Homo sapiens: one gene and its partners. The protein of the gene in region 1 purifies or fractionates together with the protein of each later gene. This does not show direct contact. Each region holds a gene or a part of one and is shown on either strand. Other genes may lie near its edges.

The links.
Region 2: the proteins of TAS2R42 (region 1) and MAP9 purify together in Homo sapiens (affinity purification with mass spectrometry; one large-scale study listed by BioGRID and IntAct). This does not show direct contact.
Region 3: the proteins of TAS2R42 (region 1) and PATL1 purify together in Homo sapiens (affinity purification with mass spectrometry; one large-scale study listed by BioGRID and IntAct). This does not show direct contact.
Region 4: the proteins of TAS2R42 (region 1) and DCAF13 purify together in Homo sapiens (affinity purification with mass spectrometry; one large-scale study listed by BioGRID and IntAct). This does not show direct contact.
Region 5: the proteins of TAS2R42 (region 1) and RBM6 purify together in Homo sapiens (affinity purification with mass spectrometry; one large-scale study listed by BioGRID and IntAct). This does not show direct contact.
Region 6: the proteins of TAS2R42 (region 1) and PPIL4 purify together in Homo sapiens (affinity purification with mass spectrometry; one large-scale study listed by BioGRID and IntAct). This does not show direct contact.
Region 7: the proteins of TAS2R42 (region 1) and RRP36 purify together in Homo sapiens (affinity purification with mass spectrometry; one large-scale study listed by BioGRID and IntAct). This does not show direct contact.

The regions. Positions count from the first base shown.
Region 1 is NC_000012.12:11,185,493-11,188,136, reverse strand, and holds TAS2R42 (taste receptor type 2 member 42), read left to right. Parts: upstream 1-1,199; coding exon 1,200-2,144; downstream 2,145-2,644. UniProt on the Homo sapiens protein: Receptor that may play a role in the perception of bitterness and is gustducin-linked. May play a role in sensing the chemical composition of the gastrointestinal content.
Region 2 is NC_000004.12:155,370,466-155,373,965, reverse strand, and holds part of MAP9 (microtubule-associated protein 9), read left to right. Parts: intron 1-509; coding exon 510-830; intron 831-3,500. UniProt on the Homo sapiens protein: Involved in organization of the bipolar mitotic spindle. Required for bipolar spindle assembly, mitosis progression and cytokinesis. May act by stabilizing interphase microtubules.
Region 3 is NC_000011.10:59,641,538-59,645,037, reverse strand, and holds part of PATL1 (protein PAT1 homolog 1), read left to right. Parts: intron 1-2,002; coding exon 2,003-2,158; intron 2,159-3,500. UniProt on the Homo sapiens protein: RNA-binding protein involved in deadenylation-dependent decapping of mRNAs, leading to the degradation of mRNAs. Acts as a scaffold protein that connects deadenylation and decapping machinery.
Region 4 is NC_000008.11:103,439,386-103,441,669, forward strand, and holds part of DCAF13 (DDB1- and CUL4-associated factor 13), read left to right. Parts: intron 1-750; coding exon 751-886; intron 887-2,069; coding exon 2,070-2,233; intron 2,234-2,284. UniProt on the Homo sapiens protein: Part of the small subunit (SSU) processome, first precursor of the small eukaryotic ribosomal subunit.
Region 5 is NC_000003.12:49,967,650-49,971,149, forward strand, and holds part of RBM6 (RNA-binding protein 6), read left to right. Parts: coding exon 1-1,099; intron 1,100-3,500. UniProt on the Homo sapiens protein: Specifically binds poly(G) RNA homopolymers in vitro.
Region 6 is NC_000006.12:149,515,044-149,518,543, reverse strand, and holds part of PPIL4 (peptidyl-prolyl cis-trans isomerase-like 4), read left to right. Parts: intron 1-1,093; coding exon 1,094-1,190; intron 1,191-1,527; exon of another isoform or gene 1,528-1,587; intron 1,588-3,500. UniProt on the Homo sapiens protein: PPIases accelerate the folding of proteins. It catalyzes the cis-trans isomerization of proline imidic peptide bonds in oligopeptides.
Region 7 is NC_000006.12:43,027,361-43,030,099, forward strand, and holds the end of RRP36 (ribosomal RNA processing protein 36 homolog), read left to right. Parts: coding exon 1-117; intron 118-1,731; coding exon 1,732-1,868; 3' UTR 1,869-2,239; downstream 2,240-2,739. UniProt on the Homo sapiens protein: Involved in the early processing steps of the pre-rRNA in the maturation pathway leading to the 18S rRNA.

The DNA of each region.
Region 1 (2,644 bases):
GGTTAATTTTTGTCTGGCAACACTTGAACACTAATTTCTAGTAATAGAATATCTGTTTGCTGACCATAAACCAAGACACATAATCTGTAACTCTGAGTTCAATTATGGTGCATTGGGGGTTTTTGTCAAAATAATTGTTCCTAGAATGTAGAACAAATACTTTTGTTTCCTCTTTCCTTATTTCATCTAAAACAATTTTCTACCTGTCTATTAAGGCTAAATTGGTAGCAATATATCTCTTGCCAAAAAAAAAATAGAACATATATAAAACCAAGGTAAAGAGCAAAACCATGTTTAATTTTGAACAAGTTACTATAAGATACCTGAGGAACATTTAGACTGAAATATCAGTAGGACTTTAATTTCAAAAAAGTAGTTTGGGTTTCGGTATCTTTCGGATATTATTCAATGAGTTCAAAATATGACTTGAGTTTCCTCATGAAATTCTAAGTATTTTCCAGATCCAAAGCAAATGTCACCCCCCTTTTCTCCCCAACAGTAGTGTTTGTAGTTCCCTTTTCTGCTTTAATAGCACATTTTATTCTTGATTCTGTCTCATTGTTTTTTTCCTGTTTTCACTATTTTATAGACTTCTTAATGCTTTTTTTTGTGGTAAATATATTGCATTTGCATAAGATCAGAAACACAGCAGGCACTTATAAAATATATTCGTTGAATAATAACAAAATTATTAGATTATATCTGCAGCTTCCTCTGAAAAACAATAAAGATATTTGGATCCAAGTGGTGTAGTTTTTCAGGTGAGCAGAAATGTACAAATCAGAGAAAGGGGGGGAATCCAGTCTATATTTGCATATTAATATACTTGACTTTATCCTTTTAATCATTACCACAAGTGGAAAGTTTCAGCCCATGACAATGATAAATGGACACAGAAACTGTTTGGTTTAGAATTCAGCAGCTCTTTCAAAGAAATGAAAACACTCCCGTGAAGGTATGTGAGACTGCATCCCTTAGTAGATCTTTTGGGATTAAGATCAGAATTATAGTAAAAATAGGCAAAGACTTCCTTAAGTATATGAGACTCTATCCAACAGCAGAAGGTTCTGATCAAGACTGGAAGTGCAATAAAAGCAATGAAGATAAGTATCAGATATGAATGCTCTTCTGCAATGGTTTGATTGTAAATTTATTAATGATACAAAGTATTAAAAACTTGGATTTTTTTGTCTCTGGAGATGGCCACCGAATTGGACAAAATCTTTCTGATTCTGGCAATAGCAGAATTCATCATCAGCATGCTGGGGAATGTGTTCATTGGACTGGTAAACTGCTCTGAAGGGATCAAGAACCAAAAGGTCTTCTCAGCTGACTTCATCCTCACCTGCTTGGCTATCTCCACAATTGGACAACTGTTGGTGATACTGTTTGATTCATTTCTAGTGGGACTTGCTTCACATTTATATACCACATATAGACTAGGAAAAACTGTTATTATGCTTTGGCACATGACTAATCACTTGACAACCTGGCTTGCCACCTGCCTAAGCATTTTCTATTTCTTTAAGATAGCCCACTTCCCCCACTCCCTTTTCCTCTGGCTGAGGTGGAGGATGAACGGAATGATTGTTATGCTTCTTATATTGTCTTTGTTCTTACTGATTTTTGACAGTTTAGTGCTAGAAATATTTATTGATATCTCACTCAATATAATAGATAAAAGTAATCTGACTTTATATTTAGATGAAAGTAAAACTCTCTATGATAAACTCTCTATTTTAAAAACTCTTCTCAGCTTGACCAGTTTTATCCCCTTTTCTCTGTTCCTGACCTCCTTGCTTTTTTTATTTCTGTCCTTGGTGAGACATACTAGAAATTTGAAGCTCAGTTCCTTGGGCTCTAGAGACTCCAGCACAGAGGCCCATAGGAGGGCCATGAAAATGGTGATGTCTTTCCTTTTCCTCTTCATAGTTCATTTTTTTTCCTTACAAGTGGCCAATTGGATATTTTTTATGTTGTGGAACAACAAGTGCATAAAGTTTGTCATGTTAGCCTTAAATGCCTTTCCCTCGTGCCACTCATTTATTCTCATTCTGGGAAACAGCAAGCTGCAACAGACAGCTGTGAGGCTACTGTGGCATCTTAGGAACTATACAAAAACACCAAACCCTTTACCTTTGTAGACAGACTTTACAGAAGCTTTTCTAAGAGAATAACTCAACAAGGAGCATTTGGGGATCACTTCCACTGTTTTTTTTTTTTTTTTCTACTGGGTTTCTCTAAGTATTTTGGAACATAAATGAAATCCTACCAGGTTGCTTTTGATGGTAATTCACACATTGCCGGTCGATACCATTTTAAAAGTAATCATTTTTGTTTGGAGCATTGGCAAGCAATATTTTAACCTCACATATTATTTCAAAAAATCTAAATTATTTAATTTTATATGCAAACGATAGGTAATTGCAACTTGTGGAGAAAAAGGTGTGTGTCTTTAAAAGCAAGATAGATTACAAACTTGAATGGGTAAAAGATATATACAATGTGGATAGAAAATCTAATTAAAAACTAAAGTCACAGCAGGAAAAATATAGCCTCATAGCTTCAAAGCTAAACTTTTTTTTTTTTTTTTTTTTTTTTAATGGCATCTCACTCTGTCGCCCAGGCTGGAGTGCAGTGGTGT
Region 2 (3,500 bases), on another chromosome or scaffold:
TTAGCATTTCTTATGATTCTTAGTAAATCTAATATTCTGGTGTGGATGGAATTGTAGTTCCAAAATTTTTATGGAAAAAATATAATTAGTAATTACTAATTAAATTCTTCCATTTACAAATGTTCTTGATTTTACATGAAGAAGTAATTTGCAAATAAAAGTTTTACAGTCCATAATCTAATTTAAATGCTACATGACTGATTGTTAGGGACCTTTGGATGGCTTTTTCCAGAGCAAACAGTGTTTGGTTGTTTGGTACCCTACAGACAACACAATAAATACATTTTGAATAAATTAATGAAATTGGAATTTTTATTTCATAAATGTTAATGAGACGTGCCTGAGTTAGCTGTGTTTTTAGAGCTGCAAGTCTATTTATAAAATACATTTGTGCCTATTCATTGTTAGAATTTTGTTTGTAGCTTTTAAGGTAAACTTTGATTAAGTTAACGTAACCTTGACAATTTTTAAAAATACTGTTGAAAACATTTTTCTTTTCCATTTTTCAGTTTCTTTAGGTGATTTTTCTGACACTTCAGCAGATGAAAATTCAGTTAATAAAAAAATGAATGACTTTCATATATCAGATGATGAAGAAAAGAATCCTTCAAAACTATTGTTTTTGAAAACCAATAAATCAAACGGTAACATAACCAAAGATGAGCCAGTGTGTGCCATCAAAAATGAAGAGGAAATGGCACCTGATGGGTGTGAAGACATTGTTGTAAAATCTTTCTCTGAATCTCAAAATAAGGATGAGGAATTTGAAAAAGACAAAATAAAAATGAAACCTAAACCCAGAATTCTTTCAATTAAAAGCACATCTTCAGGTAATTTGTTAGGATTACTGTAATTGCATTTCTTGGAAGTTTATTTTAAGATAATCAGTCCCAAAATTTTTATATGGTAGCTAGTATATATTTAAGAAAAAAAGACAGACTTAACTTCCATTTTACAGACCTGTTGTATTTTGTCTAACTTCAATTTTACAGACCTGTTGTATTTTGTCTAACTTCAATTTTACAGACCTGTTGTATTTTGTCTTGCATCTAGGCTGTTGCCTGATAGAAAGCCAAAGCACAAAGCCAAAGCACCTTTAGTCATCCATAGCATCCATAGCTGTGGATCTCCAGACACCTAGACCTGTGAGCTTCAGTTTTGTTTGTAGGTGTGGAACTGGAATGGAATGCTGTCTAATCCCTCTCACACTCCAAAGATTAGAGTTACAGCAATATTGAGACTAATCCTTCTAACAGTCTTTGCCATACCAACATTGTGCCAGAAAATTTTCTTGACATTTGTATATTTGAAGGATGAGTTATGTTATTGCTGCTGTTGTTTGTTGAAGCATCCAGGCACTCCTTAAGAGAATCTCCATTTGATCTCTGTATTGCCTATGAAAATCTACTAAGATTCAGTTTTCCAAAGGAAAGTTCCTGGTGTGATCTGGGATTACAGTTAGTTCTGCCCACAATTTTACTGAATTTTAAGCATAAAGGAACAAAGATAGAATGAAACGGAGACCAAGTCCTGTCACATACCCTGGGCCACCATTCATGAACTTGTATATGCAAGGTTAAGGATTTTTTGTTTTTCATTCTTTGTATTTTATAAAGGAATTATTAGTTGATGTTAACCTTCATAAAAATCTCCTTGCATATCATCAGTAAATACAGTGCTGGTAAATATTTCATACTTTGCATATTAGATACCAGTGGTAACGTCAGACAAAACTTTATTTCAGGCATGTATTGGGGAACTGCTCCTTTCTTCCTGACCCCACAATCTCATTAACTTTGAAATGAGCAAAGGATGTAAGCAGAGCAAAGAACACTAGAATAATATCCAGGACACTGGGGGAAAGGCCTCTGTATATTATATATGACTTCAGCAAATAAGTTAAGCTTCAGTATCCTCATGATGAGGAAGCTAAAAATAACCCTCTTTCTATTCCTGCAAAATTGTGAGAGTTTATTGAAGTGCATCTCATAAACTATAAAAAACTACAAAAATGCAAACAGATGCATAATGAAACAATTAACTTGTTAAAATGTACCTTCTAAGTATAGTGAGTGAAATCAATGCTGGAGAGAAGAGGAACATAATTGAACTTCGTTATTAAGAAAATGCGAGCATATATAGCAACTAAAAATTTGTCTGAGACAGGTGGATGTATATAATTAGAAGTTTATGGTAGATAATCAGGAAAGCAATAATCCACCTATTTCATACCTTAAAAAAAAAAAAAACCTGTGGTGGGTTACAATGAATAAGAAAATACTGTATTTTAACCACAAGGTGGCATCAGGATCCTAAATGCTCTACTTATATATGCAATGTTATATTCAGTACGTGTAATATAAAAATAATTACCTAAATAGGTAATTGTATACATTGATTACCAAAAAAAGCGCTTTTCTTAAAGTATAGGCATTTTTTTTTCTTTTTGGGAACTTGACAGTACTTCTGGAAGTGGAATTTTTGTAGAAAATATATTAAAGTTGTCATTCTCAGGTTCTTCAGGTTGAAAAGTAAAAATTGAGGCTAGTGTTCCTAAGATAATATCTGGCATATATAATAAGTATTTAAATGAATAAATTAATATATGAATGATTTATCTTTGAAAGAGGGAATATGGTTCATGAGTTTATCCTCTAAATTCTTTGACTTTTTTTTTTTCTGTACAGGTTTGGAACTCAATGTTTTTAATGTGGTGAGATATTGCTGAGTAGCAAGTAATGCTTTATGAAACTATTAGAGCTTGAAGGTTTTCTCTGTCCTTGCTTGTCTTTTGTAAAAAGTATAATAACCAGACTTTATAGTCACTACTGAAGTGACAGTTGCTCTATAAAGTGAAAGTATTTTTCACAGGATATGTTTTTATTTTAATACTAACATGACTGAAATCATGAACTTTGGAGTCAGGATGCTTCTCCTTTAATCTGAGATCTGCAGCCTGCTAGAGTTTGTGACTTTGGGCATGAGACCTCTTTGTTCTCATTTTATTCATCTTTAAAAACGGGATAATAGTTGCCTGCCTCTAGGAGTTTGAGGCAATTAAATGAGTTCACATATTTGAAGTGCTTAGAATAGTACTGGCATAAATTTAGCACTCTATAAATGTTCTGATTATTCATTTTATTATTTAGCGTTTGTTTATAAACATGCTCAGCAGGTATAAAGTATCAGTCATGCGGGATGCGTAAGTTCTAGAGATCTGCTGTACATTGTGCCTATAGTTAACAGTACTGTCTTTTGCACTGAATGTATTAAGAAGGTAGATCTCATGTTTGTTCTTACCACAATAATAAAAAAAATTGACTCAACACCTTCTTTCAGGCATTATATAATATTCTGCTTAAACTGAGGCTCAAAAGACATGCAAGCATTTGTCAGGAGGAGAAGCAGGAAGTGGATATTCTAGGCAGGGGGATCAGCTTAGGTAAAGGTATGGTAGCAGGAGGGATTGGAGGGATTGTGGTATGTGTGCATGACAACTG
Region 3 (3,500 bases), on another chromosome or scaffold:
AAAAAAAAAAAAAGTGGATGGGGAACTTTACAGTGGTTGGAGCAGCCTGGCAACACCTGAACCCATTAATGAACTCTTAACACCTCTAAGAGTGGGACAACCAAGCACTGTGCTTTTTTTTTTTTTTTAAAAAAAAAAAAAAAAAAAGGAAACGAAGTCTCCCTATGTTGTCCAGGCTTGTCTCGAGCTCCTGGGCTCAAGCAGTTTTCCCATCTCTGCTTCCTAAAATGCAGGGATTACAGGCATGAGCCACCATACCTAGCTCTTCTTGGCATAATGCAATGGAAAATACACAGTTCTATCCATGACGTTTTCTCACATGTCCCTCCCACATCCTACTGAACCTGAATCAAATAAACCTGTTATTCTAACTATCTGTTTAGGAGGGAAACAGAGGATAGCAGAACCTGCTAAGTGACACTGCCAACATGCAGTTTGCCAAATTCAAACTATAGAACAAATGACCCAGTTTCTTTAACAGATAAATAACAAGAGAAAAGGGCCAGTGGCAGAAGACCTGTTAGAGAGATTTTAAAAACCTTACCAGGCAAATGCAATGTGTGGATCTTGTTTGAACCATAATTAGCACAATAATGGTTCTAATACAAAGTTCAGCTGCTAAAAGATATTTTTAAAGGCATTTGAGGGAATTTGAATTTGAAACAGATACTAGATGATATTTTAAAATTCTTTCCTGAGAAATGGTCTATGAAGAAAAATTATTGTTTATTTTGTTAGGTATGATATTGTGAGAGATTTTGTTAGAAATACAAACTGATGTATTTTGGGATGAAATGATATGATACAGAAGGAACATAGATTTAATAAGATTGGCAAAATGTTGATAATTTGGTTGATGTTGAAATTGGGTGGTGAGTACATGAATGTCATTATGCTGTTGTTTGTATTTTCATGTATGTTCTAAAATGACCATAATAAAAGCTTTTTTAATTTATAGTAGACCACAAAAAATATTTTATTCCCCATTTGCAGTTGCCATTTAAAGTAAAACCAGCCATCACTTTATACCATGTGCATTGATTGTCTGGAAGCACTCTTGATTTCCTTTGTTGTGTTATAACCTAGTTATTTATATTAATAGTTCTTTATTTTAACTTTCCAGTTGGCTACATGACAAAAAGAAATAAATGACTAGAAGGCTGGAATTCAACAGCCTTGGGTTCTGGCTCTAGCTGTGGCTATGTAACTCCAAACACTGAGTTTCTGATCACTTTATAGATTCTCTAAAAATCTATAAAAATTGGCTAATTATTTCTTTTCTTCCTCATTGAGCTTTTATAAAAATAAAAGAAAATACATTAAATCTGAAAACACTTCTTTTGAGACAGGGTGGGTCTCACCCTGTCACCCAAGCCGGAATGTGGTTGTGCAATCATAGTTCAATGTAACCTTGAACTCTTAGACTCAAGCAAACCTACCACCTCAGCCTATTGAGTAGCTGGGGACTACAGGTGAAACTTTTTTATTTGTTGTAGAGATGAGGTCTCACTACGTTGTCCAGACTAGTCTTGAACTCCTGGCCTGAAGTGATCTTCTGCTTGGCCTTTAACCTATCTTGGAGTGCTTCTCACAGTATATTGAAATGGCCAATTAACCCATATCTTCTCCGCTATACTTTAGATCCCTGAGGTTCTGTGTCCTTTTGCCATTTGTTTTTAGCCCATGGTGTAGTGTAAGCATTTAAATATTTATGGAATTAGTTAAAATATTGATGTTTTAGCATAACTCTTGGTATGTATTTGGGAGTGATTTTTTTTTACACCTTTGGTTCACACAAGTCATGGTGTTTCCAATGCAAATTGAGATGAAAAAGTTCTCAGTAGATAGCTTAGAATTCATTATTAAGACTCTAGTCATATCTGCCAGACTTGTGCCTTAAGTGGTTGAATATACAAATGAACATCCTTCCATCCATGCCCCTGGTGGGGGGTAACTGAAGTAACACGTGCCAGGATATAATGCTTTTATTTGTTTTTTGTAGGTGCTGCCATGCTTACTGAGTCCCTTCTCTCTCCTTCTCTATCATCTTCCATCAGTGAGTATCACCAGCCTTTTGCGACAGCTAATGAACCTACCTCAAAGTGCAGCTACACCAGCACTCTCCAATCCTCACCTCACTGCTGTGCTCCAGAACAAGGTGATCTTGCCCTTTTAACTCCTTGAACTTTGTGAAATGTCTTAATTTGCGTTATAGATTAAAATAATGGCTGCTGTATCTCTAGCAACTTGGGAAAAAGGCTTCTTTCAGTCAAGAGTTACATTAAGCTCCTAGTAACCGGCTAGAAATAACAGTGTTTTCAACAAAATGGGATTTTATGTGTCTAGTGTGAAATAAATTTGATTTAGTAGCTCGACAGAGTCATCAGGGATCCAGGCTTTTTCACTTTTTTTCCTCTGCCATTCTTACCAGTGGCTTCCATGTTCATTATTCCTCATGGTCCAAGATGGCTGTGGAATTCATGATTCAGCTTTACATCAAGAAGGACAGGTGGATGTGGAGGGCAAAAAGATGTGGACCAGCTGTCCATCTTCCTTATTGAGACCTTTTCCAGGAGTTCTAACCAGAAACTTCTACTTACTGTTAATAGCCAGGACATTGTCACATGGCCACACCTAAGTGCAGGGAAGGCTGGAAAATATCTTTTAGTTTATGCCATTGTCATGACACATAAGAGTTCTGATAATGGGTAGGAAGGCATATTAGGCAATTAGCAGTCTCTGTCATAACACTATGAATAGTAGAATCATCCATTTCATATTTTATTTGCATCAAGTTTAAAGATTCAGAGATTCCTAGGGGAAACATAATATGAAATAAAGAATATGAATTTTTAGTCCTTCCCTGCTACTGTCTAGCTTTGTGACCTTGGACAGATGATATCACATTGCTGAATCAGTTTCCTGGTCTATAAGATGGAGGTGATGATGTAGACTTCATAGAGTTGTCCTGGTACTTAAATGAGATAACAGTTGTAAGTGGTTCGATATAATGCCTGGTACATAGTAGTTACTCATTAAGGGCCATTCTATGTACAGTAGAGATGAAAAAGTGGTCTCAAGGCCTCTTGCTCCTTTGCACCAGAAAACCTACCAAAGCATGACTCTAAAGGTCAGTGTATCAGAGGAAGAAGAGGTGACAGTGCCTCTGGGGTTCTGGAGTGATCCGGAATGTGCCTTTCTGTTATTTGGTCTCTTAGTTTTAATTTTAGTAAAGGCAGTAGTATTTTTTTTCTGAGAATAACATGAAAAGGGATTTTTTTTTTTTAAATCAGGGTCTTCTCTGTCACCCAGGCCAGAGTGCAGTGGCAAGATCTCGGCTCACTGCAACCTCTGCCTCCTGGGCTCAAGCCATCCTCCCACCTCAGCCTCCCAAGTAGATGGGACTACAGGCACATGCCACCACGCACAACTAATTTGTGTATTTTTTGTAGAGGTGGGGTTTCGCCATGTTGTCCAGGCTGGTCTCAAACTCCTGAGCT
Region 4 (2,284 bases), on another chromosome or scaffold:
TTTTTTTTTTTTTTTTTTTTTGAGGCAGAGTCTCACTCTGTCACCCACGCTGGAGTACAGTGGCACAATCTTGGCTCACTACAATCTCTGCCTCCCAGGTTCAAGTGATTCTCCTGCCTCAGCCTCCCTAGTAACTGGGATTACAGGTGTGTGCCACCACGCCCAACTAACTTTTGTAATTTTAGTAGAGACAAGGTTTCACCATGTTGGGCAGGCTGGTCTAATTAATTAAGCTTTTTAAACAATTTAACCAAAACAAAATTCTGGCATTAGATTCAGCATATCAGGAGGTACTCTTTGAAGACCATTGCATTTCTTTCTTTTTCAGTAAAATGAAGGGGAAAAAAAGTGTGTTGACCTGAATTGATTTGATATGGGGAAGAGGCCTTTTAAGATCAAGTCCTTTCTTTTTGTTACAAAGTTACCTTGGTTGAACATCATATTTTATTTGCATTTTATGCTTTTAGTTATTCTGTGAACTTTTCTGTACATCTGGTTTTGCTTAGTTTGTTCATATTTATTTCTCTTACTAGATAGTAAGTTCTCTGAGAGCAGAAATTTGTTTACTACCCCAGCACTTAACACGGAACCTTATTAGTTGGGTTCAATAAAAATACATTGACAAGAATTTGAGTTTTTATTTTATACTCCTATAGGACTCAGAAATAGTATCCTGATACTTAATAGGCAGTGGTTACTCAAAATCTGTACCAAAATCCAAAGGGTTTTAACTTAATTCGTTTTCTATAGGGAGGTATATCATACAAAGAGAATGCAACATGTTATCTGTGTAAAATGGACTTCTGACAGCAAGTATATTATGTGTGGATCTGATGAAATGAACATTCGCCTGTGGAAAGCTAATGCTTCTGAAAAATTGGGTGTGGTAAGAGAATTCATTTTCTTTCATTGTCATAAAGCTGATTTCTAATTTTATTAGATATTACATTATGAAAATTTACTTTTAGGTATTTTTGGGTATTTTGATTAAATTGACATAGCTGTGATAAAAAAAGCAATAAATGGACAAGGTTGTATTGATAATTATTTGCTTCATTCTGATCTATTATTGTAGACACTGTACATTCAAATTGACATTTAAGACCTTCAGAATGCCTTTGTTAATTCAGATGTTTGATAATATTGAGTCTTACTGGTTTTTTGTGTTTTCCTTGAGGTAGGGACAGAAGATGCAGGAACTAGAGGCTCAGAACTTAGAGCTCGTATCTCTTGTTAGAGAAATAGTCATCCAGCAACTCAAAGGCTGCAAGTCCCTGGGAGATCTTGTAATATCAAAGACACAATGGAACATTTAATAAATACAGAAAGCTTCATACTTTAAAAAAGATTCCATGAAAAAATAGCAGGTGTTATCATTGGCTGGTTACCTCCAGGATAGGGGATTATGGTTGATTTTGTTTTGTTCTTGATGTTTTTCTAAATGTCCCATATTTTCTATAAGAAACAGAGTGTTTATATTAGAAATAAATATTAAGTTTAAGAAGGAAAGGGTAAGTGTGAATTATTTTCTACTTAGTCCTGATAGGAAAATCAAAGGCAATTCTGTTTTAGGTTTAATGATTGATAAGTATTGCATTGTGCCTAGGTCCATCATTAAATGTTCCTCTAAATCGTATCATCCTTAACATTCGTTAAACAAAGGGTAGTTCTTATGGAATTGGATACTTATTTTTTCTTTGCTGTTTCACTATGTTTAACTCACCTCTTTACCCACCCCCAAAATTTGAGTGAGTGATTTAGGTGCTTTTCTATGTTATTGATGCCTAGGGAAGGTCCAACTCAGTGATCCACGTGGCCCTACTCCTTCAGCACTGCTGCTTTCTACTGGGTGGCATCTATCTACATGGCGAGTGTGTTGCCTAAAAGGAAATTCAGTGCTTGCAGAGCTAGTGTTACTAATATAACCTTGTAAAGTGCAGAATTACATTGGCAATTTTGGTTGCATATCATAAAAGATTAGGTTAGGGGGAAAAGGGTGCTTTCTAGCTTTTTTATACTGAAGCAAAACAACACACTATTCATTAAGATACCAAAATGTGTATTTTCAGCTTACATCACGAGAAAAAGCAGCCAAGGATTATAACCAGAAATTGAAGGAGAAATTTCAGCATTATCCTCATATAAAACGTATAGCTCGTCATCGACATCTACCAAAATCTATCTATAGCCAGATTCAGGAACAGCGCATCATGAAAGAAGCTCGTCGACGAAAGTATGTTTTGAGGCATTTGACTCTATTACCCTTTTCTGACTTCTGCTCTCA
Region 5 (3,500 bases), on another chromosome or scaffold:
TGGAGCTAGAGACGGACCGCATGGTGACTATCGAGGAGGGGAGGGACCTGGACATGATTTCAGGGGGGGAGATTTTTCGTCTTCTGATTTCCAGAGCAGAGATTCATCACAGTTGGACTTCAGGGGTAGGGACATACATTCTGGGGATTTTCGGGATAGAGAAGGACCACCTATGGACTATAGGGGTGGAGATGGTACTTCTATGGATTATAGAGGTAGGGAGGCACCTCATATGAACTACAGAGACAGGGATGCTCACGCTGTTGACTTCAGAGGTAGGGATGCTCCTCCATCTGACTTCAGGGGCCGGGGCACTTATGATTTAGATTTTAGAGGCCGGGATGGATCCCATGCAGATTTTAGGGGAAGGGATTTATCAGATTTGGATTTTAGGGCCAGAGAACAGTCCCGTTCTGATTTTAGGAATAGAGATGTATCTGATTTGGACTTTAGAGACAAAGACGGAACACAAGTAGACTTTAGAGGCCGAGGTTCAGGTACTACTGATCTAGACTTTAGGGACAGGGATACGCCACATTCAGATTTCAGAGGTAGACACCGATCTAGGACTGATCAGGATTTTAGGGGCAGAGAGATGGGATCTTGTATGGAATTTAAAGATAGGGAGATGCCCCCTGTGGATCCAAATATTTTGGATTACATTCAGCCCTCTACACAAGATAGAGAACATTCTGGTATGAATGTGAACAGGAGAGAAGAATCCACACATGACCATACGATAGAAAGGCCTGCTTTTGGCATTCAGAAGGGAGAATTTGAGCATTCAGAAACAAGAGAAGGAGAAACACAAGGTGTAGCCTTTGAACATGAGTCTCCAGCAGACTTTCAGAACAGCCAAAGTCCAGTTCAAGACCAAGATAAGTCACAGCTTTCTGGACGTGAAGAGCAGAGTTCAGATGCTGGTCTGTTTAAAGAAGAAGGCGGTCTGGACTTTCTTGGGCGGCAAGACACCGATTACAGAAGCATGGAGTACCGTGATGTGGATCATAGGCTGCCAGGAAGCCAGATGTTTGGCTATGGCCAGAGCAAGTCTTTTCCAGAGGGCAAAACTGCCCGAGATGCCCAACGGGACCTTCAGGTATGTTGATGGGGTGGATTGCTTTTTTTTTTTTTTTTTTTTTTTTTTTTGAGACGGAGTCTCGCTCTGTTGCCCAGCCTGGAGTGCAGTGGTGCGATCTCTGCTCATGCAAGCTCCGCCTCCTGGGTTCATGCCATTCTCCTGCCTCAGCCTCCTGAGTAGCTGGGACTGACTACAGGCGCCCACCACCACGCCTGGTGTGAGCCACCGCGCCCGGCCTGCTTTTTTTTTTTTTCTTTAAATAAGACTTTTGTGAAGGATGACATTTATTTATTTATTTATTTATTTATTTTTGAAACGGAGTCTTGCTCTGTCACCCAGGCTAGAGTGCAGTGACATAATCTCAGCTCACTGCAACCTCCGCCTCCCAGGGTCAAGCAATTTTCCTGCCTCAACCTCCTGAGTAGCAGGGATTGCAGGCATGTGCCACCATGCCCAGTTAATTTTTGTATTTTTAGTGCAGATGGGGTTTCACCATGTTGGCCAGGCTGGTCTCGAACTCCTGACCTCGTGATCCGCCCACCTCGGCCTCCCAAAGTGCTGGAATTACAGGCATGAGCCACCGTGCCTGGCCAGTTTTTTTTTTTTTTTTTCATTTTATTTTTATCTTTGCATAACCATTAGAAAGCAAAATTTGTATTCAGGAGTGGAATGTAGGAATGTAAATCTCTAGAGAAAAGGTCCTCAGCTCAGATCATATATATGTGTGTGTGTGTGTATATATATATATGAATATATATGTATATATATGAATATATATTTATATATATATATTTCTTTTTTCTTTTATTCTTTTCTTCCTGCTTCACTTTCCATTTGTGTATATATGTGTGTGTATATATGAAGGAACTATATATATATATATTTGAGACACGGTCTTGCTCTGTCACTCGGGCTGAAGTGCGGTGGTGTAATTATGGCTCCTTGCAGCCTTGACCTCCCAGGCTCAAGCGATCCTCCCACCTCAGCCTTCTGAGTAGCTGGAACTACAGATGTGCGCCAGCCACTATGCCTGGCTAGTTTTTTTTTTTTTCCTTTGAGAATGAGTCTTGCTCTGTCGCTCAGGCTGAAGTGCAGTTGTGCGATCTCAGCTCACTGCAACCTCTACCTCCTGGGTTCAAGGGGTTCCCCCGCCTCAGCCTTCCAGGAAGCTGGGACTACAGGTATATTTCACCATTCCTAGTTAGTTGTGTTTTTTTTTTTCTTTTTTGAGATGGAGCCTCACCGTGTTGCCTAGGCTGGAGTGCAGTGGCACGATCTTGGCTCACAGCAACCTCCGCCTCCCGTGTTCAAGCAGTCTTCCTGCCTCAGCCTCCTGAGTAGTTGGGACTGTAGTTGTGCACCACCAAATCTGACTAATTTTTGTATTTTTTGTAGAGATGAAGTTTAGGCATGTTACCTAGGCTGGGCTGGAACCCCTGATCTCAAATGATCCACCCTTCTCAGCTTCCCAAAGAGCTGGGATTTCAGGCATGCACCACCATGCCTGGCCAGCAATTTTTGTATTTTTTTGTAGACAGAAGGTTGCAACATATTTCCCAGGCTGGTTTCAAATTCCTGGGTTCAAGCAGTCCCCCCACCTTAGCTTCCCAAAGTGCTGGGATTACAGCAATGAGCCACTGCCCCTACCCTTTTGATGTGTGTTTATTCATTATTTTGTTTTATGATGCTGATTTACATGCCTTGGGATAATTTAGTTTGAAAGTATATGTCTTTGGGAGTTGACTCTTGCAACTCTCGCTTAGTTAGACCTGTGATTGTTTAGGGATCATTTTCTTATTTAAATTCATTGAGAGAATACTTAGGAGTCTCCCTAGTTGTGAAGAGCTGATATTAATGTTGCAACTATCCTCTTGCAGCTAACGTAATTAACTTAAATGTTAAACTTCTTGAATATATGATTTAAGCAAGGAGGGTTATATTTGTAATTTTACAATGAAGGTATTCTCTTTTAAAGTAGATTTGGCTGGGTACAGTGGCCTATGCTTGTAATTTCAGTGCTTTAGGAGGCTGAGGTGGGAGGATCACTTGAGGCCAGGAACTTGAGACCAGTGTGGTGCAACCTCAGGAGAGAATGTGAGGGTGGGGAAGAAAAATAAGGCCAGGCACAGTGGCTCATGCCTGTAATCCCAACACTTTGGGAGGCAAAGGTGGGCAGATCATTTGAGGTCAGGATTTCAAGACCAGCCTGGTCAACATGGTGAAACCCCATCTCTACTAAAAATAACAAAAATTAGGCCAGGCGTGGTGGTTCTTGCCTGTAATCCCAACACTTTGGGAAGCTGAGGCAGGTGGATCATTTGAGGTCGTGGGTTTGAGACCAGCCTGACCAACACGGAGAAACCCCATTTCTACTAAAAATACAAAATTAGCTGGGCGTAGTGATGCATGTGTGTAATCC
Region 6 (3,500 bases), on another chromosome or scaffold:
CTATGGGTCCCCCTTTAAAACCCTGACAATCAAGGTACACATAGGATTCTCAGTCAAAACCTCTGTCTGTACCTCCAGTTTGTTTTACTTCTACATTTAATCTAGGACCCTTCTGTAGGAAGCCTTTCTACAAACAGCATTTCCTAGTGGTGTGGTTGAGGGATAGGAAAGGCAGGGCAGTCAACAGGTCTGGGACATGGATGCGAATTGAATTCTCATCTGGTAGGAGACTTGAAAATTGAATTCTCATCTGATAGGAGACTAGAGTTGAGAGTAGAGAGGCTGCATTGAATGCTCTTCCTTTCTAGCCCTACCAAGCTAGTTAGGATGTAGCAGTAGGTCCTATTTTCCTGAGGGGATTTTTGGCACTTGGGAGGAATGAAGTTGCCCCTAAGTTAGAATTTCAAAGTAGAGACAGTTTGTCTTTGGTGCTATTACCCACCCTCTCCTCTCACAGCTGTTTGGTGATCTTCTGCACATCCTGCCCTCTTCTATTTGCCTGATGCTCTGTTGCCATTTAGCAGAGTATCTCTTGTTAAATCTTTTTTTTTTGAAACGGAGTTTCGCACTGTCGCTCAGGCTGGAGTGCAGTGGCACGATCTCGGCTCACTGCAACCTCTGCCTCCCAGGTTCACGCGATCCTCCTGCCTCAGCCTCCCGAGTAGATGGGATTACAGGCACACACTATCTCGTTAGATCTTTAAAAGGTCTCTTAAAGTCTCACTTCTCTCAAACTTAGGTCTTTCAGATCTTAAACTCAGGTCCCAAATCCTCAGTTTTCCACTGGACTTAATGTTCTCATGGGCTCAATGGCTCTACTTGAACACGGCATTTGTGTGTAATTTATTTGAAAGTTTGATGTTGTAATATTCACATATATCGTTAGGTGGCAGCATGTGGCTACCTAGCAAAAATGGATGTCTGATTTCAAATTAGTAATGGAGATGGAATTACTATGATTCTTTTGTTCCCTTTCTCTGTCTCTCGATATATGCCATTTATAAAATAGCTCTTATGCTTTTTATAAAATAATTATTGTTCTTGGTTAGGTGGTTTTTTTACTAAGCTCTTTTTTTCTTTTCTTAATAAATAGGTGGGAAATACACCAAGAGTGATTTCAAGGAGTATGAAAAAGAACAGGATAAACCACCTAATTTGGTTCTGAAAGATAAAGTAAAGCCCAAACAGGAGTATCCTTACCAAGAATCAGTTAGTTAATATGTATTGACCATCTGCTATGTGTAGAGTACTGTGTGATGTGTTATGAAAAGTCACAAAAGCTATAGAAGACAAATTTCCTGAATCCAGATTGTTTGTGAGGAAGTAACTTAGTTTATCATTATCTCTTTTCAAGATCTTACATATACTTTGCTTTTTCACTATACTCTAGTGTATGGAGAAAGTTAAGGTTGAAAGAAATCTGTAGCCTAATTCTTTTATTAATACTTTCCTACTCTAGGTTAAGTACTTTCCTACTTATCATATTCTCAGAAGATCTTCAGGTAAGATTTGTATTTTCTTTTTGGGGGGGCTTTCCTGCAAAAACCGGAAAGCCTACTAGACAAATTCTAAAAGAGCTGTAACACTAGCTTTGTATTTTCTATATGTAATTGTAATGTTTTCTATTCCTCATAATCTGAAATTTATTATTGCTAAGCTGATTCCTTTGTGCTACCTGCTGTTATGTTTAACTTCCTTACCTAGATAACAAAATCCTATTGTTCTCTGTTACAATGTTAGGTTACTTCTTTCGGTATAGTATATTGTAATTTCAACAACAAATATTTATTGGGCTTCTACTGAGTGCAAGAGTTCACTTTTGTAGGATTAAAAAGAAATCCATTGACTTGACCATTTACTTCAGGTTCTTCCAAGTTTTAGGTTGAGACATGTAAAAAGTAATGAAACATACTGTTTATATTATGACATTTAAATTGGTTCACTAATTTTTCCCATTATAAATATATCACTCCACACATTGCAAGAGTTATTTCTGTTGTGATTCTTTCTGGTAAATGGTGTCTTTGTTTCCTAGTTTCTATTGGTATTTCAGGGATTTTTTTTTCTACATATGTAGACATTTCTTTTCCAAGTACTCATCAAGAAAGATGAATATCAGGTTGACCTGGTCTATATTCATGTTTTAAGATGTGTTGATTGTCTGCAATGTATAAAGCATTGTGAGGTGTTAGAACTGGATAAAGTCTGAAGAAAGCTGATAAAATCAGCATAAGGAGAGGCTTTCACATGCAGACAGACCAAATAAGAAGCTGAGATTTGGTCAGAAAAGATCAACATTCAAGGGCATATGATTGAAAGCTCAAAATCATAAAAGTTATGAATGGAATACATTTGATATTTATTTACCAAATCTTTGAAATTAAATTTAGGCTTATTACTAATAACTATAGCTGGAAGAAGGGGAATTTTAAGTTTTCTTTAATTTTAATTAATTGAAACAACCACACATATACTTATATGGAATAGTGTAGCTTCTAGCCTTTTGAAGTTGATGCAAAAGAGAGAAATGCTGTTAGGGGATAGTCTGATGTGCAGATAAATTGTCTTAAGTCAGTTAAGAAGGCATGGTGGCATCTACTTTATGGGCCTTAAGAGAAAGAGAAATTAGTGAAAGTATAGATTATTAATAAGAAGAATCAAAAATAGAAGTAGGAGAAGGAAATAACTTGGCCCAACTAGACCTCAGGGAAGAAATTGGAGAAAAGATGGCAGTGAGCTCACAAATTTGTGTTTTATTCAAAGGGAGAGGGATTTGATGTCTTCTGAAAGTGTTGATTTTAGTGATAAGTACAAGATAGTGGGTAAGTGAGGAAGCAGGAGATACAACAAGTGTCTTGAGGGTATGACAAGTAATCAACAGATACTTAGTAAGCATCTGTCACATACTCAGTTTAGCAATGAAAGATATTCAGTTCCTGCCCACATAGAGCTTACATTTTGCTGTTGGAGTGGGGAAAAAAAACCAGACATTAAATAATTACCATTCTAAATACGTCTAAATTATTGCAAATAAATATTGCAAAGAGATATGGGACTCATAATAGGGGGCGAGAGGTTAGAGAATACCCTCAACACTGAAAAAAGTGGCATTAAAGCTGTGACACTAATATGGGAGATAGGAGGGCTGAGGTGGAGTGCTGTCTTCTTTCGTATGATCCATCATTTAAGAAATAGGCTGGGTGCAGTGGCTCATGGGAGTGCTGTCTTCTTTCGTATGATCCATCATTTAAGAAATAGGCTGGGTGCAGTGGCTCATGCCTGTAATCCCAGCAGTGTGGGAGGCCGAGGTGGGAGGATTGCTGGAGCCCAGAAGTTTGAGAGCAGCCAGGGCAATATAGCGAGACCCGGTCTCCATTTTTTTTTTCTTAAAAAAAAAAAAAAAATTGGCTGGGTGCAGTGGCTCATGCCTATAATCCCAGCACTCTGGGAGGCCGAGGCGGGCAGATCACCCGAGGTCGGGAGTTCAAGACCAGCCTGGC
Region 7 (2,739 bases), on another chromosome or scaffold:
AGCAGCAAGAAATGGCACAGCAGGAACGAAAGCAACAGCAGGAGCTGCACCTGGCCCTGAAGCAAGAACGTCGGGCTCAGGCCCAGCAGGGCCATCGGCCATACTTCCTGAAAAAATGTGAGTTGGGCACAACTGTTGCTAACAGGGACAGGGGTGCAGGGGCCATGGTGGTAGAGTCTTGTGTTGGGGTGTCCCTGATCCCCTTTAAGGAAGGCATGAAGGCTGGATCCCATGGTAACTTGGAGGAAAGTAGAAATAGTAGGGAGTTGTTTGTAACCAGTCTTGTATCCCTAATTAGATCATGGCAGGCATTGTCACCTTTATTTCTTGGTCTACACTCCCCACTTCCCAACCCCCCCCCCCCAACACACACACAGTGAGTTTTATCTCTTGGTCTACACTACACACACACACACACACACACACACACACACACACAAACACAGAGTCAGTTTTATCTCTTGGTCTACACACACACACACACACAATCAGTTTTATCTCTTGGTCTATACTACACACACACACAGAGTTTTATCTCTTGGTCTACACACACACACACACAATCAGTTTTGTTTCTTGGTCTACACTGCACACACACACATGCACACACGCTGGGCCAGGCACATAGGTGTTCATAGTTGGTTGAATTGAGTAGTACTGAGATCATATAAAAAGTCATCAGTTGGGCTGGGCACGGTGGCTCACGCCTATAATCCCAGCACTATGGGAGGCCAGTGTGGGGGGGTCACGAGGTCAGGAGTTCGAGACCAGCCTGGGGGCCAACATGGTGAAACCCTGTCTCTACTAAAGATATAAAAAAATTAGCCGGGCCTGGTGGCGTGCACCTGTAATCCAGCTACTCAGGAGGCTGAGGCAGGAGGATCACTTGAGCCCGGGAGGTGGAGGTTGCAGAAAGCCTAGATTGCACTGTTGTACTCCAGCCTGGGCAACAGCGTGAGACTCCATCTCACAGGAAAAACAAACAAACAAAAAAAAGTCACCAGTTGGGCCGGGCGCAGTGCCTCACACCTGTAATCCCAGCACTTTGGGAGGCCAAGGAGGGCAGATCACGAGGTCAGGAGTTCAAGACCAGCCTGGCAAACATGGTGAAACCCCGTCTCTACTAAAAATACAAAAATTAGCTGGGTGTGGTGCTGTGCATCTGTAATCCCAGCTACTCAGAAGGCTGAGGCAGGAGAATCGCTTGAATCTGGGAGGCGGAGGTTGCAGTGAGCTGAAATCGTGCCACAGCACTTCAGCCTGGGTGACAGAGTGAGACTCCATCTCAAAAAAAAAAAGTCACCCGTTGGCCAGGCGCAGTGGCTCACGCCTGTAATCCCAGCACTTTGGGAGGCTGAGGAGAGCGGATCACCTGAGGTCAGGAGTTCGAGACCAGCCTGGCCAACATGGCGTAACCCTGTTTCTACTAAAAATACAAAAAAATTAGCCATATGTGGTGGTGCGCGCCTGTAATCCCAGCTACTCCGGAGGCTGAGGCAGGAGAATCACTTGAATCTAGAAGACGGAGGTTGCAGTGAGCCGAGATCGCGTCACTGCACTCCAGCCTGGGTAACAGAGCAGGACTCCGTCTCAGAAAAAAGATAGAGGGGCACCAGTGAGCTTTAAAGAACTCATGTATCCAGCATAATGGCTTGGAGTTACTGACCTGGTTTGGGAAAGAATAGGGGCTTCCTTCTTTGTTCACCAACTTTCATTCTCCCTGTCATTTAGCTGAGCAGCGCCAGTTGGCACTAGCTGAGAAGTTCAAGGAGCTGAAACGCAGCAAGAAATTGGAGAACTTCTTGAGTCGAAAGAGGCGACGAAATGCAGGCAAGGACAGGAGACATCTCCCTTTGAGCAAAGAGTAATAAGGAACTATCCTCTGCTCTGCCACTGCCCCAGGGAGACATGGATCTGTGAGGACAGATTTGGCCACGGCTGGTTTCCGTTCAAGGGCAAGGATCACAGCTGCCCTTGAATCTCATTGCCTCAGAGAAGACTAGAGGGCTCTTGGACTATCCCTAGGGCTACACAAGAATAGTTCAGCCTTCTGCCATGCCACACAGCCTCAGCTTGAATCTGGTTCATTGCGTCCTCGTGTTCTTCTCTCATCCTTGCCTTAAACCAGGGATTCTGATACCGAAGAAGAGGGGCCAATGAAAACCATGGAGTCTGTTCGTGACTCCCAGGGCTGGGACATTATGTAGGAGCCACTTCATAAACATTCTCTTTACTCATCTTTTTATTCTGTTTTTTGTGGCCTTCTTTTTGTGTTTCCCCCCCGAAACAGAGTCTCGCTCTGTCACCCAGGCTAGAGTACAGTGGTGCAATCTCGCCTCACTGCAACCTCCACCTCCCAGGTTCAAGTGATTCTTGTGCCTCAGCCTCCCGAGTAGCTGACATCCGCCACCAAGCCCAGCTAATTTCTTTCGTATTTTTAGTAGAGATAGAGTTTTGCCATGTTGGCTAGTTTGATCTTAAACTCTTGGCCTCAAGTGATCTGCCTGCCTCAGACTCCCAAAGTGCTGGGATTACAGGCGTTGAGCCACCGTTCCGGCCTTAAGGCCTCTGCTTTTATGTGGGATTTGTGGGTAGCCTAGAACTACTTTTTAGTGGGCCACATATTGGGATAGGCAATAAAGCCTAAGGCATCTACAACTGGGAAGTCAGATCAGAAACCCCTCCCACTTAAATCTGGGCCCCTCAAGGATGACAAGATCATTTAGTGGGTGAACCAAT